Homo sapiens: one gene and its partners. The protein of the gene in region 1 purifies or fractionates together with the protein of each later gene. This does not show direct contact. Each region holds a gene or a part of one and is shown in the gene's direction. Other genes may lie near its edges.

Region 1 (3,500 bases):
ATTAATTTGGTAGTAGATTCTAATACTGTACTTTTTTCTCCTTTTCATGATGGGTAATAAGTGAGCAAGCAGCACTTGCGAAGCGCAGTTTCAAGTGAAGGATGCATCTGTGATGCAAAATCATCGACCATTTATTTGTAATGGTGTGTATGTAACCTTCACCAAGGTATTTTACTGGGGCTAGTGCTTTTACAGGCATTTCCAACTTTGTAGATTGCTACCTCTGGATCTGAGAAACTGCAGCTAAAGTGAAGTCGGCTTTAATACTGTTTCATGGATTCATTGGTACACCCTCCCACCGTGTTTATTTGTATTTTGCAATTGTTTGAGATTATTGTTTTGGTTTTTTGCACTAAGCAATTGCTTGGTTAATCCTAAACAACCACAGTGATGAGGAAAGCATGTGATTGTAACTAACTGCCTAGGGTGAGTACCTTTCAGTGAGGGTTTGATTTCAGTGTTAGCCAGAGAAGGCACTAGTAGCCATATTATTAGAAGATTGTAGTAAATTGTAAAGTCTGATCGGGAGTTTTGTTATTTTTTATGTAGCAAGACAGAAATTTTGTAGTTCAAATTGAGGTTTTTATATTCTAGATCTCAACCTGAAAATGAAATTACTTAATCATTAACACTGATTCTAATATCTGAAATGAGTTTTCTTCCATTTATCAAACTCAAGCCTACCCTTCCTTCCATGAAGGTTTAACATGAAGGTTTAATAATTTATGAAGGAAATTGAACTATGTTCTTTTCTAAAATCTTTGGAATGTTAGCAGATACTGTCATTGACACTGAAAAGTTGTTTAGAAAAGGAAAAATAGCTAAAGCTTCTGTCCACATTTTTTACTTGTATACTTTTTCTTTTTGCTTTAAAAATGTTCAGAATTTGGGAGCAAAAATTGAAAGCAAAAAACTAGTAATTATAATGCATGATGGCATCTATTAATATGTATTTTACTAGTTTTCATTCAGAGTCACCAAAATGTTCATAGTAACTTACTATGTTACTATGGAGTAAGATAGAAAAGCATTTTCTACCCTGCTCCCTGCCCCCCCCCCTTTTTTTTTTTGAGACAGAGTCTAGCTCTGTCACCCAGGCTGGAGTGTAGTGGCATGATCTTGGCTCACTGCAACCTCCACCTCCTGGCCTCAGCGTCCCGAGTAATTGGGATTGCAGGTGTGGGCCACCACGCCCGGCTAATTTTTGTATTTTTAGTCGACAGGGTTTTGCCATATTGGCCAGGCTGGTCTTGAACTCCTGACCTCAAGTGATCGGTCCGCCTCAGTCTCCCAAAGTGCTGAGGTTACAGGCGTGAGCCACTGCGCCCGGCTGGCATTTCCTACCTTACTCCATAGTAAAATAGTAAGTGTTGGCTTCTCAGAATTGCCAGCAGTCCATGTGTTATATGTGTATGTAATTGCTATTTGCTTTTCTTCCCAAAACATACAGAATTAGAGTGAATAGTATAATAAATTGAACTCCCCATGTACCCATGCCCAATTTAGCAATATTAGCACATAGTCAATATTATTTCCTCTGTATCCCTTCCATTATTTTGAAGCAATTCTGTTATTGTCAACCTTAAAGCGGTCATTGTATATCTGTAAAATACAAGGACTTTAAAAAAAAAACATAGCCGACCGGGCATGGTGGGTCACCTGTAATCTCAACATTGGGAGGCCAAGGCAGGCAGATCACTTGAGGCCAGGAGTTCGAGACCAGCCTGGCCAACATGGTGAAACCCTGTCTCTAATAAAAAATAAAAAAATTAGCTGGGCGTAGTGGTGCATTCCTGTAATCCCAGCTACTCTGGAGGTTGAGGCAGGAGGATCCTTTCAACCCAGGAGGCAGAGGTTGCAGTGAGCCGAGATGGTGCCACCACAGTCCAGCCTGGGCAACAGAGTGACACTCTGTCTCAAAAAAAAAATAGAATAAAATAACCACAATACCATAATCACTGAAAATTATAGTAAGGTATTTCGTAAATCTTTGGTTGCTTTAGGAAAATTGTGTGTGTGTGTGTGTGTGTGTGTGTGTGTGTGTCATTATATATGTTATTAGCCTTGATTTCCTCACAAAAGGAGAAGGTAGCTTAAGTTTGTAAATTTGACTTTTTTGCTAATACAGTTCTTCGTTTTATGAAATATTTTCTCTTTTTTTTTTTTTTTTTACCCCCGAGATGGAGTCTTGCTCTGTTGCCCAGGTTGGAGTGCAGTGGTGTGATCTCAGCTCACTGCAACCTCCACCTCCCGGGTTCAAGCGATTCTCCTGCCTCAGCCTCCAGAGTAGGTGGAATTACAGGTGCATGCCACCATGCCTGACTAATTTTTGTGTTGTTGTAGAGATGGGGTTTCACCATGTTTGCCGGGCTGGTCTTGAACTTTTGACAACAAGTGATCCTCCCTCGGCCTCCCAAAGTGCTGGGATTACAGGGGTGAGCCACCATGCCCAGCCTTTCTCTTCATTTCTTATAGTAAGTTAGGAAAATTGTTGTATTCATTTATCCAACAAAAATGTATTGCTCGGCTGGGAGCGGTGGCTCACGCCTGTAATCCTAGCACTTTGCGAGGCTGAGGCGGGTGGATCACCTGAGCTCAGGAGTTTGAGACCAGCCTGGCCAACATGGCGAAACCCTGTCTCTACTAAAAATACAAAAATTAGCCAGGTGTGGTGGCGCACGCCTGTAATCCCAGCTACTCGGGAGGCTGAGGAAGGAGAATCGCTTGAACCCGGGAGGTGGAGGTTGCAGTGAGCCGAGATCACGCCACTGCATTCCAGCCTGCGTGACAGGAGCAAGACTCCATTTCAAAAAAAAAATTAAAAGTATTGCTCTTAGGTAGATAACAGCAGGATAGTACAGATACAGCACTTGGTCCTAAAGAGCCATCATGTATTGGTGACAGTAAATGCACTTTTTTTTTCCAATGGGGATTATTCCAATTGAATGTAAACGCATTTCCATAACAGAATATGATAAATCCTACCATTGGGAAAAGTAAAATTGACCCTTGAACAACACGGGTTTGAGTTGAGTGTGTCCATTTATACGTGGAGTTTTTTCAATAAATATATTGGAACATTTTTTGGAGATTTGCAACAATTTGAAAAAACTTGAAGACGAATCACATAGCTTAGAAATATTTTTAAAATTTAAGAAAAGATAAGTACATCACAAATACATAAAATAGATGTATATACTAGTTTATCATTTTCCTACCACAAAATACATACGAATCATAAAAAGTTAAACTTTATAAAAACTTATGCACACAGTACATGGTGCCACTAGCAGTCCAGAGAAAGTAAAGCTTGAGTAATAACTGCATAAAATTAACTATAGTACATACTGTAATACTGTAATAATTTTGTAGCCACCTGTTGCTATTACAGTGAGCTCAAGTGTTGCCAGGCTCCACTTAAAATGCCCTATGACCTGTGACTCTTGATAATCTCTGCATGAGCAGTTGGTGTCTAAAGTAAATTGCATATCACAGTAAAA
Region 2 (3,500 bases), on another chromosome or scaffold:
GAACAAGAGGTAATTTATTTTTTCTTTGTTAAAAATTGTTTACAAAGTCAACCTAAACTGGCTGCGTGGAAACCATTCAGTACCCATAGCTTTTCCCTTTGTCTTGAAAAGGAAAACTGTCAAAACCAGTTTTGTGAAGCAAGTTACTTTCCCAGAGTTTTCTCACCTTATCAATAAAGATTACAAATACTTAATAACAAAATGATAAACTTTTACAGTCCATTTAAAAAATCTATGTTAGTAACAATATCTGACACTGTAGTTCACTTATGAAGGCAGTGACAGGATTATTGTGCCTAGTTTAGTTACCTTGTAGGAACTATGACTGACAATAAGCTCCAAGAAGAGGATTTCTTCTTTTTCTCCTCTGTGTGAAGCAAATGGGTCAAGTCAGGGGCAAAGAGAGCAAGGAAAAATCAGTTATTTGAAGCTGTCAGTCTCATTGGAAATAGAAAACAAGTCCGGTGCTTTCTATATTGTGGTTTTAATGGGGGAATTTTTTCCTCACATTAGTACTTCTCTGATACGTATAATGGAAATTACAAGAATAATGGACTTAAAAACAATTCATTTTATTTTCAGTTGGAGGTTGTGTGTGTGTGTGTGTGTGTGTGTGTGTGTGTGTATTTAAAGATCCTTTTCAAAGTTGTAGTATTAAAAAAAAAATTACAGAGACAATTTGGGTAAAATCAGTGCTTTCTTAGTAAAAAACCTATAAGACAAGGTGAGGCTCTCTCTCCCCTCTTTGGGCTGCCAGTATGCTGTGAATCAGATTACACCTATGTTGCTTAAACATATTAAATTTGATAAAAATCGTTGAAAATAAAACTATCAGTTTTTTCAAACTGGGAGACTTAGTATGAAAAGATGGTGTATATTCTAGCCTCTTCAATAGTCAGGAACAGTTTCTTTATTGTAGAAAGAGCATTGGGACATTGTCCTTGCCTCTTGCTGTGGACAACCAAACTGACAAATGGTTATTTTGTTTGACTATTTAAAAAGCAAAGCAATGTGAGATTATAAAAGATATGTCTTTAATTAGATGTCGGACTGAATATGAAGTTAAAGATCAAGCTGCAAAAGGGGATGAAGTTACTCGAAAACGATTTCATGCATTTGTACTCTTTCTGGGAGAACTTTATCTTAACCTGGAGGTGAGAAGTTTTTCTTTTGTTAAGTACTAACAAGGCCTGAGAACATAAGTTGATCTCAATGAGGAATTTGTGTTCACATTGTACTTTTACAACATTAAGAGTGAAATGAAAGAGAGAGGAAAGAAAACATGTTTCGGCACCTGCTAGTGTCTGTGGTTTACTGGACCGTCTGTCCATAACATTTACTCATGGACAGAATGTTAGGAAATAATTACTGAGGTAAAAATCTGCGTACTTTTAGGAAGCTGTGGTTTACATGCAAATTTAAGTTCTTGAGATATCAACAGTGATACCTTTTTGAGTTCTTACATCTTATATATTAATACATTTAGTATGTTGACTTTCAGATGGTGGCTCAAAGCAGTTTACTCTGCAGAACTCTGAGTGAAAAGAGAGACTAGAGTCTCTCTAGGCTTTTCACTCTAATTCACCCAAATAGTTTTTTAAAAATATTTTTTTAATTGACAAAAATTATATCTTTATGGTACACAACACTTTGATATATGCATACATCGTAGAATGGCTAAATCAAGCTATTTAACATATGCATTACTTGACATACTTTTTTGTGTTAAGAACACTTAAAATTTTTAGCAGTTTTCATGTATACAATATATTGTTAACTATAGTCATCATGGTGTACAAGAGATCTCTTGAACTTATTCCCCCTAAATGAAATTCTGTGTCCTTTGACCAACATCTCCCCAATACCCCAACCCCTAAGAATAGTTCTTTTTTGTCCTATTTTATATATTAATCTTCCACATAAAAATGCATTTGTACAAAGTCTACAGCTAAACGTATTTATAAATTTGGGTGGTATACTTAAGTATATGCTTGTTAGTAGGCAATAGAAGTGCTGGATTCAGCACGGCATTATTACTGTGTAATAGATTTGCTTGATTTTTTTTTTTTTTTTTTTTTTTTGGGTGGGGACAGTCTCGCTCTGTCACCCAGGCTGGAGTGCAGTGACGTGATCTCGGCTCACTACAACCTCCGCCTCCCGGGTTCAAGCGATTCTCCTGCTTCAGCCTTCTGAGCAGCTGGGATTACAGGCACGTACCACTATGCCTGGCTAATGTTTATATTTTTAGCAGAGATGGGGTTTCACCATGTTGGCCACGCTGGTCTCAAACTCCTGACCTCAGGTGCTACCCGCCTCAGCCTCCCAGAGTGCTGGGATTACAGGCATGAGCCACCATGCCCAGCCTCTGCTTGATTTTTTAAATTAGTGAATATCAGATATAAGCTTATACCTTCTTACACCCTGATTTGAGAACTTAAGATCGTAAACGCCATAATATCAGAAACATCATAAGACAATGTGAATCTATCAAATGTGCATCTCAGTCATTGTATCTAAAAGGTCTATGTCCAGTCCAGAGCCTAACTTACTATGCCTTTTTACCACAGGTAGACTTAGTTTTTTGAAAAATCTTATGCCATGTTCTTTTTCAGTCTAATTTTTGTTTAAGCCAAAATATGGACAGCAATCTAAAATAAATACTGTTGAGCATTTTCTATATGGAGATAATGATGCTAGGTCAATGGGGGATGTAAAGATAAGGCTTAGTTCCTGCACCTAAAATTCTTCTACACAGTGATATAAGATACATATACCACTCTGATGCAAAATACCATATTTTAAAATATTTTAAAAGCAGAATAAAATGCTGTGTGTTCAAAAAAAAGTGGTAGTTGAACAAACTAAAGAAAGCTTTATGAAGTAGTAACATCAAAGTGGGCTTAAATTATGCTGACTCTGGTATTAAATTTTACCCATAGCTTACCAGTTTTATTAGAGGTCTTAGTTACATATAAAGTAATTCTAACAAATTCTGTGAAGATATCAGAGTGTGTTCCTGTGACTTTTGTGATTTAGCTAAAATGCTTATTTTGCCAACACCTTGTTAGTTCATTTATGTATCTGTATTATATTTTGGCATCATTCCTTTTGTTCTTTTTTTTGGTCCCGAAAGATCAAGGGAACAAATGGACAGGTTACAAGAGCAGATATTCTTCAGGTTGGTCTTCGAGAATTGCTGAATGCCCTGTTTTCTAATCCTATGGATGACAATTTAATTTGTGCAGTAAAATTGTTAAAGGTAGGTTTTTTTTTTTAATTTAACTAATTTACGTATTTACTTATGATTTAGAGGAAGGTTAGTCTATATAGTATACAGATGAATTCAAGATTTATCACTTTAAGGTAAATATTGACATTTTACTTTTTTCTCGAATATTTTGGAAAAGCGAGATATACTTATTGTTTAATATATGAAGCAAGTTCAGAAGTGAAAAATGGAAGTCCTTTACGCCATTTCCATTTGCAAATTCTGTCTTCTT
Region 3 (3,364 bases), on another chromosome or scaffold:
CTCTCTCTTTTTGTTTGCTTCTGTTTTCTTTCTTGTCTTCATTCTTTCTTTTCTTTTTTATTTCTGGTAGCAGGCCTCCATAGAACAAATCTAAAACACAACCACCATAGTAATGTAAGGAGAGCTTCAGTGGCACCTCAAAACCCACCCTTCGAGATCTGTCCAAAGACAGTCTCAGAAAGCTGCACTGCCCACCGGCTCAGCTTTCATTCAAAAAGGCTTCCAAGGCCAATTCTGTCTTGAAGTCAATGCATGTATTTACTGTTTGACAGTAAACCCGCTCTGCCTTCTCCACGTCCAAGGCTGTGCATTCGTCTAATTAGCGTCGTGTATGTTTTCCTTTTATTTTTTCCAATAAAAAAGCAGTGGGATGAAAATTGCTTTGATATATAGCAGGTAACATTGAAGCTATTCCATAGCACTTAACTGTAGTGAATACTGTGTCACCAATTTTGAAATCAATTTAATGTTTAATGCAAATCCATTACATGGTGCTATTATAGGCTGACAAAATGATTTACACAAATGTGACAACTTGGGCTCAATTCACTCTGCTTTCCAACAGTGTAAATGCATAGCAGTGTTTATCTGCATGAGAACTATGCACTAATCTATCTGAAGAAAAAAACTATATCAACTTTGGTATCTACTTTCCGTTTACTTCAATCCTTGCCTTTTTGGTCATTGTTATAATGCCAGCTTTAGGACAGAAAGAATTATAAGAAAACCAGCATAATACCTGATATATTAAAATGTAGTGCCTGTGAAATCTGTATTATATTGCTCTTCTGAAGTAAGATTTTTCTACACCGGTAGCCTTCGCTGTCTGTCAGTCAGGACCTTCTGGTATAGGTGATGTAAAATAACCGTACAATATTAATGCATGCGATTCCATAATGCTTAGTGAACTGTATGAATATTACTCAAAGTTATGTTAGTCTTTTTTTCCGACTTGGTTCTTGTCAGCTAGGTTTAAAGGTATTTCACTGAGAACGCAAATTCTGTCTTTTCTTGATTTCGGCTGTTTTCAGTATTTTGGAGGTATACATTTACTTAAATTCAGTATTACTCGTGTTTTGTTTTTGTTTTTGTTTTTTGTTTTCTTTTTCCTAGGGGACAAGCATGGGTGTTTGATTTCAGAAATCAGTACCTGGCGAGATTTTTGTCTCAAAACGACTATTTGAATTTCAAGAACTGTGCTGCGAAGACACTCTGAGAACATTTGCAAGTCAGGGGCATTTTCCTTGACCCTTGACTGATGCTATGCGGAGACTGATACATTTTCTTAATGGACAATGTTCAAGCCAGGTACCCATGCTTGATCTGTCTTCACACCAGACCTCCTCATATTAAAAGGAAAAATAAGAAAAAAAATGTAAGAAATCACATGGCTATTTAGTTTCATGCACAGTTGCAATATTTTCTTCAAAAATAAAACTCTGTACAAACTTTGGGCCCGATTCATAAGAAAAAGAAGTTTGCTATTAACACGGGATTTTTTTAATATACTTTTTTTGGTCTAAATTTGAAATTACTTGCTTCCCAAATTAAATAAATTTCATCTCATTTTTTTCCCTAAACCAGCACCCATCTGCCTTTTATTCCCCAAAGAGTTACCTTTCCCAGATTAGGGGGATGGTATGTGGGGAGCAGATAGCGGAAATGCTTAGAAAGATAAGGGGGACCACCCACAGCTGGTCGTGAGAACAGGGAGACAGTGTGTGGGGGTGGGACCTCATCTGTGTGCCTGGTATCCTGAGTTTTACATGTAGATGCATTCGCCTATTTGATTCAGAAAAATAAACTTTCCCAAAATGTGTCTGAACCACAAGAGCATACAGTGGAAGTGCTACCTCTAATCTAACCAGAGCACCTTCATGGTGGAAGACACCCACCAGGTCATACAATGTGAACTTTTGTATCTCTGCAGTGGTTTCAAGGACAAATAGTGTCCAATGTATTGGGCCATTTTTCCTGCTGTTTTTATACTCAACTTCTCAAAATGAAAAAAGCTTTTATTTTTCCTTTGACTTATTTGTGTTGTTCTTATTTTTTAAATTTTTATTTTTTGATAATAGTCTGTAAGTTAGCCTTTTTGGGTTTTTTTTTTTTTTTTTTGGCTTTTTTTTTTGTTTGTTTTTTTTTCTTTTGACATTGCAACCGAAGGTCATAAGGCCGCTAGCTCCGCTGGGACAGAGGCTTGAGAGAACTAACGGCTCGGTGCCTTCTCCCTGGTCTCAGACCATCGTCTCTGCACTGCGAAGGCATTTGGTAGCCTCGCCACTGAGATACTAACTAGACCTAGACTAGGAGCTTTATCAGGTTCTAGGAGGTCCTTTAGGAAGACTCTCAAAGGCAAATCCCTGATCCCCCGCCCCACCCTTAGCCCTGCCCTCTCACCAGAGCAAAATTCACTGGGGACTTTTCCCACCACACATGGAAATCTGTCCACTCGGAATACCTCTGTTTTCCATTTCAAATTGTAGGGGGAGGGGATGGAACACTTCCAGTGATGGTAAGAGATCTGTTATGAAACGAAACACCCCCCGTGTTAATAACTTGGTCTGAAATCTGTTTTTATGAGCCGGGCCCCCTGTGCCTCTAGTATACTTGTATTGACTCTCATAGTTACCCTTTTAGTTTTACTGTGTTCTGTGAAAATTTGTAATTGGTTGAGAATCACTGTGGGCGTCCATTCTTATTCAACTAAATCTCCACAGGTTTTTTGAGCTGGTGTGGATTAGTTTAACTCTTGTATTCAACCATTAGTGCTACCACCTTCTCACATTACAATACAATTACTGGAAGCAAGTACTGCATTTCCTATGCAACAAAAAAGGAAAAATAAAAAATTGCTAATGCTATGGAAGCTGTGTCATCATTTGCTTTACAGCATGCCTGGGTGATTGAGTGACAGTCACGGGTGTGGACTGGAGGCTCCCACAGAAGATGGTCTTTATGCACCATGGGGTTTGTCAGGCACATAGCATCCTTGGCTGTGTTCTGATGGGCAGTGTTACTTTTTTCACCTACTTGGACAAATACAGGATTTGACACTCACATAGTGTTTACTGTGTGCCTGATATTGTTCTGAGTGCTGTATAGATTGTATCAGTTGGGGCCCAATCGGGAATCAGGAATAAGATTCAATGGGTTTTCCAACAGGGGCTGTAAAGTTGCCTAGGTATTAGTAACTGCAGGATACAGCCACTACCCCTGGAGCTGGGGAAACCGAAGGGAAAGGTGGGCTTACCAGAACCTAGGCACTCAAGGAGGGACACCACACAGCTGATATTTGGGTCTTTTCTGAGGGAGGTGGTCACCACAAAGGTGGGGACAGCACATGGCCAGTGGCCAGACCTCT
Region 4 (3,500 bases), on another chromosome or scaffold:
TTGTTTGAGCTCCTTATATATTCTGGGTTTTGTTGTTGTTGTTGTTGTTGTTTTTGAGACAGAGCTCTGTTACCCAGGCTGGAGTGCAGTGGCGTGATCTCGGCTCACTGCAGCCTCCGCTTCCTGGGTCCAAGTAATTCTCGTGCCTCAGCCACCAAGTAGCTGGGATTACTGGTGTGTGCCACCACACTCAGCTAATTTTTGAGTTTTCAGTAGAGATGGGGTTTCGCCATGTTGGCCAGGTTGGTCTCGAAGTCCTGGCCTCAAGCAGTCCACCCGCCTCGGCCTCCCAAAGTGCTAGGATGACAGGCATGAGCCACCACACTTGGCCCTGTATTCTGGTTATTTATTTATTTGTTTATTTATTTTTCTGAGACAGAGTCTTGCTGTTGTCTCCCCGGCTGGAGTGCAATGGCACGATCTTAGCTCACTGCAACCTCCACCTCCCAGGTTCCAGGAATTCTCCTGCCTCAGCCTCCCGAGTAGCTGAGATTACAGGCACCCACCACTATGGCCTGGCTAGTTTTTCTATTTTTAGTAGCGACAGAGTTTCACCATGTTGGCCAGGCTGGTCACAAACTCCTGACCTCGGGTGATCTGCCAGCCTCAGCCCCCGAAAATGTTGGGATTACAGGCGTGAGCCACCCTGCCCAGCCATATTCTGGTTATTAATCCCTTGTCAGATGGGTAGTTTGCAAGTATTTTCTCAGGAGGAAGAAGAACTTAATAGGCACTGGATAATAGAATGTTAGAGTAAACCTACAAAATCTATGAGGATAAAGGAAAGGATTTTAGATTACCAGGACAGGATTTAACTTAGAGGTGGTGAAGCACTTCTGTGCTGGGAGCCATTTAAGAAATTACTAAAGAGTATAAAAGAATTCTTGGTTCTGCAAATTTTTCAAAAACTGGAAGAACAACTCTGGGTTTAATGTGGTTTACTTGGACTCTTTTCAGAAAAATAGCAGTGTGTCCTTTGGCCAGGAACTCAGTGAAAAAATAATAATAGTGTGGATTGGCTGACCTCAGTTTTCTCCCAACTCATACTTTTGAAATGCAAGCGGGCAGAATTGGGAAGTCATTTTCAAAAACTAAATTAGTTCAACTAATCCCTTCTTTAACTGGGTAATTTCTTTTCACATTTTCCTCTGTGTATGCTTCTGCTTGTTTGTTTTAAATAAGCACACTCATATCTTGTTGTTGCTTCTTGGAAATGATGCTACACCCTCTCCTTTTTCAGGCATACCCAGATGGAAGTAGCAAAGAAAAGAGAAGAGCAGCAATTGCCCAGGCCTTAGCTGGCGAAGTCAGTGTGGTGCCTCCATCTCGTCTCATGGCATTGCTGGGACAGGTAATTCAATTCCTGTAGAGGCCAGGTGTGGTGGCTCACACCTGTCATCCTTGCACTTTGGGAGGCTGAGGCAGGAGAATCACTTGAGCCTAGTAGTTGGAGACCAGCCTAAGCAACATTGTGAGACTCTGTCTCTACAAAAAGTAAAAAAATTAGCGGGTTATGGTGGGGTGTGCCTGTGGTCTCAGTTACTTGGGAGGCTGAGGTGGGACAATCACTGGAGCCCAGAAGATTGAGATGACAGCTATGATCATGCCATTATACTCCAGCTTGGGCAACAGAGTGAGACCCTGTCTCCAAAAATAAAAATAAATTTAAAAAGTGAACTCCTGGTACAATTTCCTAATTTCCTATGTATAAACTATGTCTTAGCTGAAGAAATTGTACACCCTAAGAATTGGGGACTACCTACAGAGTTGCTTATTCCAGTAACTGTGCTGTTCCACTCTCCCTCTTTCCTGGGAGAGGCAATATAGATTAGTGGTTAAGAACAAGCTCTGGAGTCAGTTAGAATTAGGGTTACCATAGAATTTATCATCCTGTCTGGAATATCGTTGAGAGTACAGTTGATCCCTATGCCAGAACACCAAGTGCAAATAGTAACTGTCCTGGAAAGATTGGAACAAATGCCCATCCTAGTTAGAATCCAGGCTTTCTCATTTACCAGCTATATAGTCTTGGCAAATTACTTAACTTTTCTGGTCCCATTTACTCGTCACAGTATTGAGAGTAAGGATTAAGAGAAATAATGTTCATAAACACTTTATACATTTCCTGGCACCTTGTAAATAGTAAATGGTAGCTGCTGGTGATGATTTTTTAAAAAATTACTAATAGTGTTGCCAGCATGGTCATTATTATAAAGCTACTTAGAGTAATAGATATATTATAAATAACAAAGGGCACAAGTGATTAATAGGGATGTTAATAACCTTTTTGCACTAAATCTGCATTTAGAAAAGGACCAAAAAGCTATTTGTTGCAGGCCTGCAGTGACTCTGAGATTCAAAAGTAAGCTGCTTTTTGGCCTGGCGTGGTGGCCCATGCCTGTAATCCCAGCACTTTGGGAGGCCAAGGTGGGTGGATCACCTGAGATCAGGGGCTCGAGATGAGCCTGGCCAACATGGTGAAACCCCGTCTCTACTAAAAATACAAAAATTAGCTGGGCGTGGTGGCAGGAACCTGTAATCTCAGCTACTCGGGAGGCTGAGGCAGGAGAATCACATGAACCCAGGAGGCAGAGGTTGCAGTGAGCCGAGATTGAGCCATTGCACTCCAGCCTGGGAGACAAGAGCGAGACTTCATCTCAAAAAAAAAAAAAAAAAAAGTAAGCTGCTTTTTGATTTCTTAATCAAACTAATAGCAGTGCATCGTTTAAGTAGTACTTCAGGGCTTACAGTGAAAAACAGTCCCATGTGCTTCCCTTCTCCACCTCTGATTCTTAACTTTCCTGACTTAGCTCCATAGCTGAATACCATGTTTATACTGTTATTACCTGATTTTTTTTTTTTTTTTTTTTTTTTTTTGGTCATTAGCAACTAACTTTCTTCAGCGAAAAATGATTTGTCTTATACCCACTCTCCTCAATACACACTTACTCTTCTTCTGGATTTTCAGTAGAGCTGTATCACAACTTTTGGTTCAATCTATATTCAATGTTTACATAGTTATTTTTATATAGCTATTGTTCACAGCTAAAAAATAATTACATGTAATTTCTTACATAAATTTTTATGATTTGCAATAATTATTGCTTATTTTTTCTTTTGCCTAGTTTTCTATGCACTTCTGCTAGTCCAGCCTGAGTATTTCTAGTAGAACCGTCAAAAGTCCTTTTTTTTCCGCTTGCTGATATCTTTCCTGAGGCCCTTCTCTTTTTGTTCCCATCAGGACTAGTTCTCTTGCATTGCTGCACAGTTACTGTACCAGGACTTCTCTCATCTTCATACTGGGAATTTTGGGTCTCTTATTTTTTTGGTAGGTCTTATTTATAGATTCCTCAGTTTTCTTTTTTTTTTTGAGACAGAGTCTCACTCTGTCGCCAGGCTGGAGTGCAGTGGCACGATCTTGGCTCACTGCAACCTCCGCCTTCTGGGTTCGAGCAATTCTCCTGCCTCAGCCTCCCGAGTAGCTGGGACCACAGGTGCCC

What was found.
Region 2: the proteins of LUC7L3 (region 1) and PAIP1 fractionate together in Homo sapiens (co-fractionation; one large-scale study listed by BioGRID). This does not show direct contact.
Region 3: the proteins of LUC7L3 (region 1) and NFIA fractionate together in Homo sapiens (co-fractionation; one large-scale study listed by BioGRID). This does not show direct contact.
Region 4: the proteins of LUC7L3 (region 1) and SMU1 fractionate together in Homo sapiens (co-fractionation; one large-scale study listed by BioGRID). This does not show direct contact.

The regions. Positions count from the first base shown.
Region 1 is NC_000017.11:50,722,603-50,726,102, forward strand, and holds part of LUC7L3 (luc7-like protein 3), read left to right. Parts: intron 1-3,500. UniProt on the Homo sapiens protein: Binds cAMP regulatory element DNA sequence. May play a role in RNA splicing.
Region 2 is NC_000005.10:43,536,578-43,540,077, reverse strand, and holds part of PAIP1 (polyadenylate-binding protein-interacting protein 1), read left to right. Parts: intron 1-1,042; coding exon 1,043-1,154; intron 1,155-3,133; coding exon 3,134-3,259; intron 3,260-3,500. UniProt on the Homo sapiens protein: Acts as a coactivator in the regulation of translation initiation of poly(A)-containing mRNAs. Its stimulatory activity on translation is mediated via its action on PABPC1. Competes with PAIP2 for binding to PABPC1.
Region 3 is NC_000001.11:61,459,925-61,463,288, forward strand, and holds the end of NFIA (nuclear factor 1 A-type), read left to right. Parts: 3' UTR 1-2,864; downstream 2,865-3,364.
Region 4 is NC_000009.12:33,066,675-33,070,174, reverse strand, and holds part of SMU1 (WD40 repeat-containing protein SMU1), read left to right. Parts: intron 1-1,240; coding exon 1,241-1,351; intron 1,352-3,500. UniProt on the Homo sapiens protein: Involved in pre-mRNA splicing as a component of the spliceosome. Regulates alternative splicing of the HSPG2 pre-mRNA. Required for normal accumulation of IK.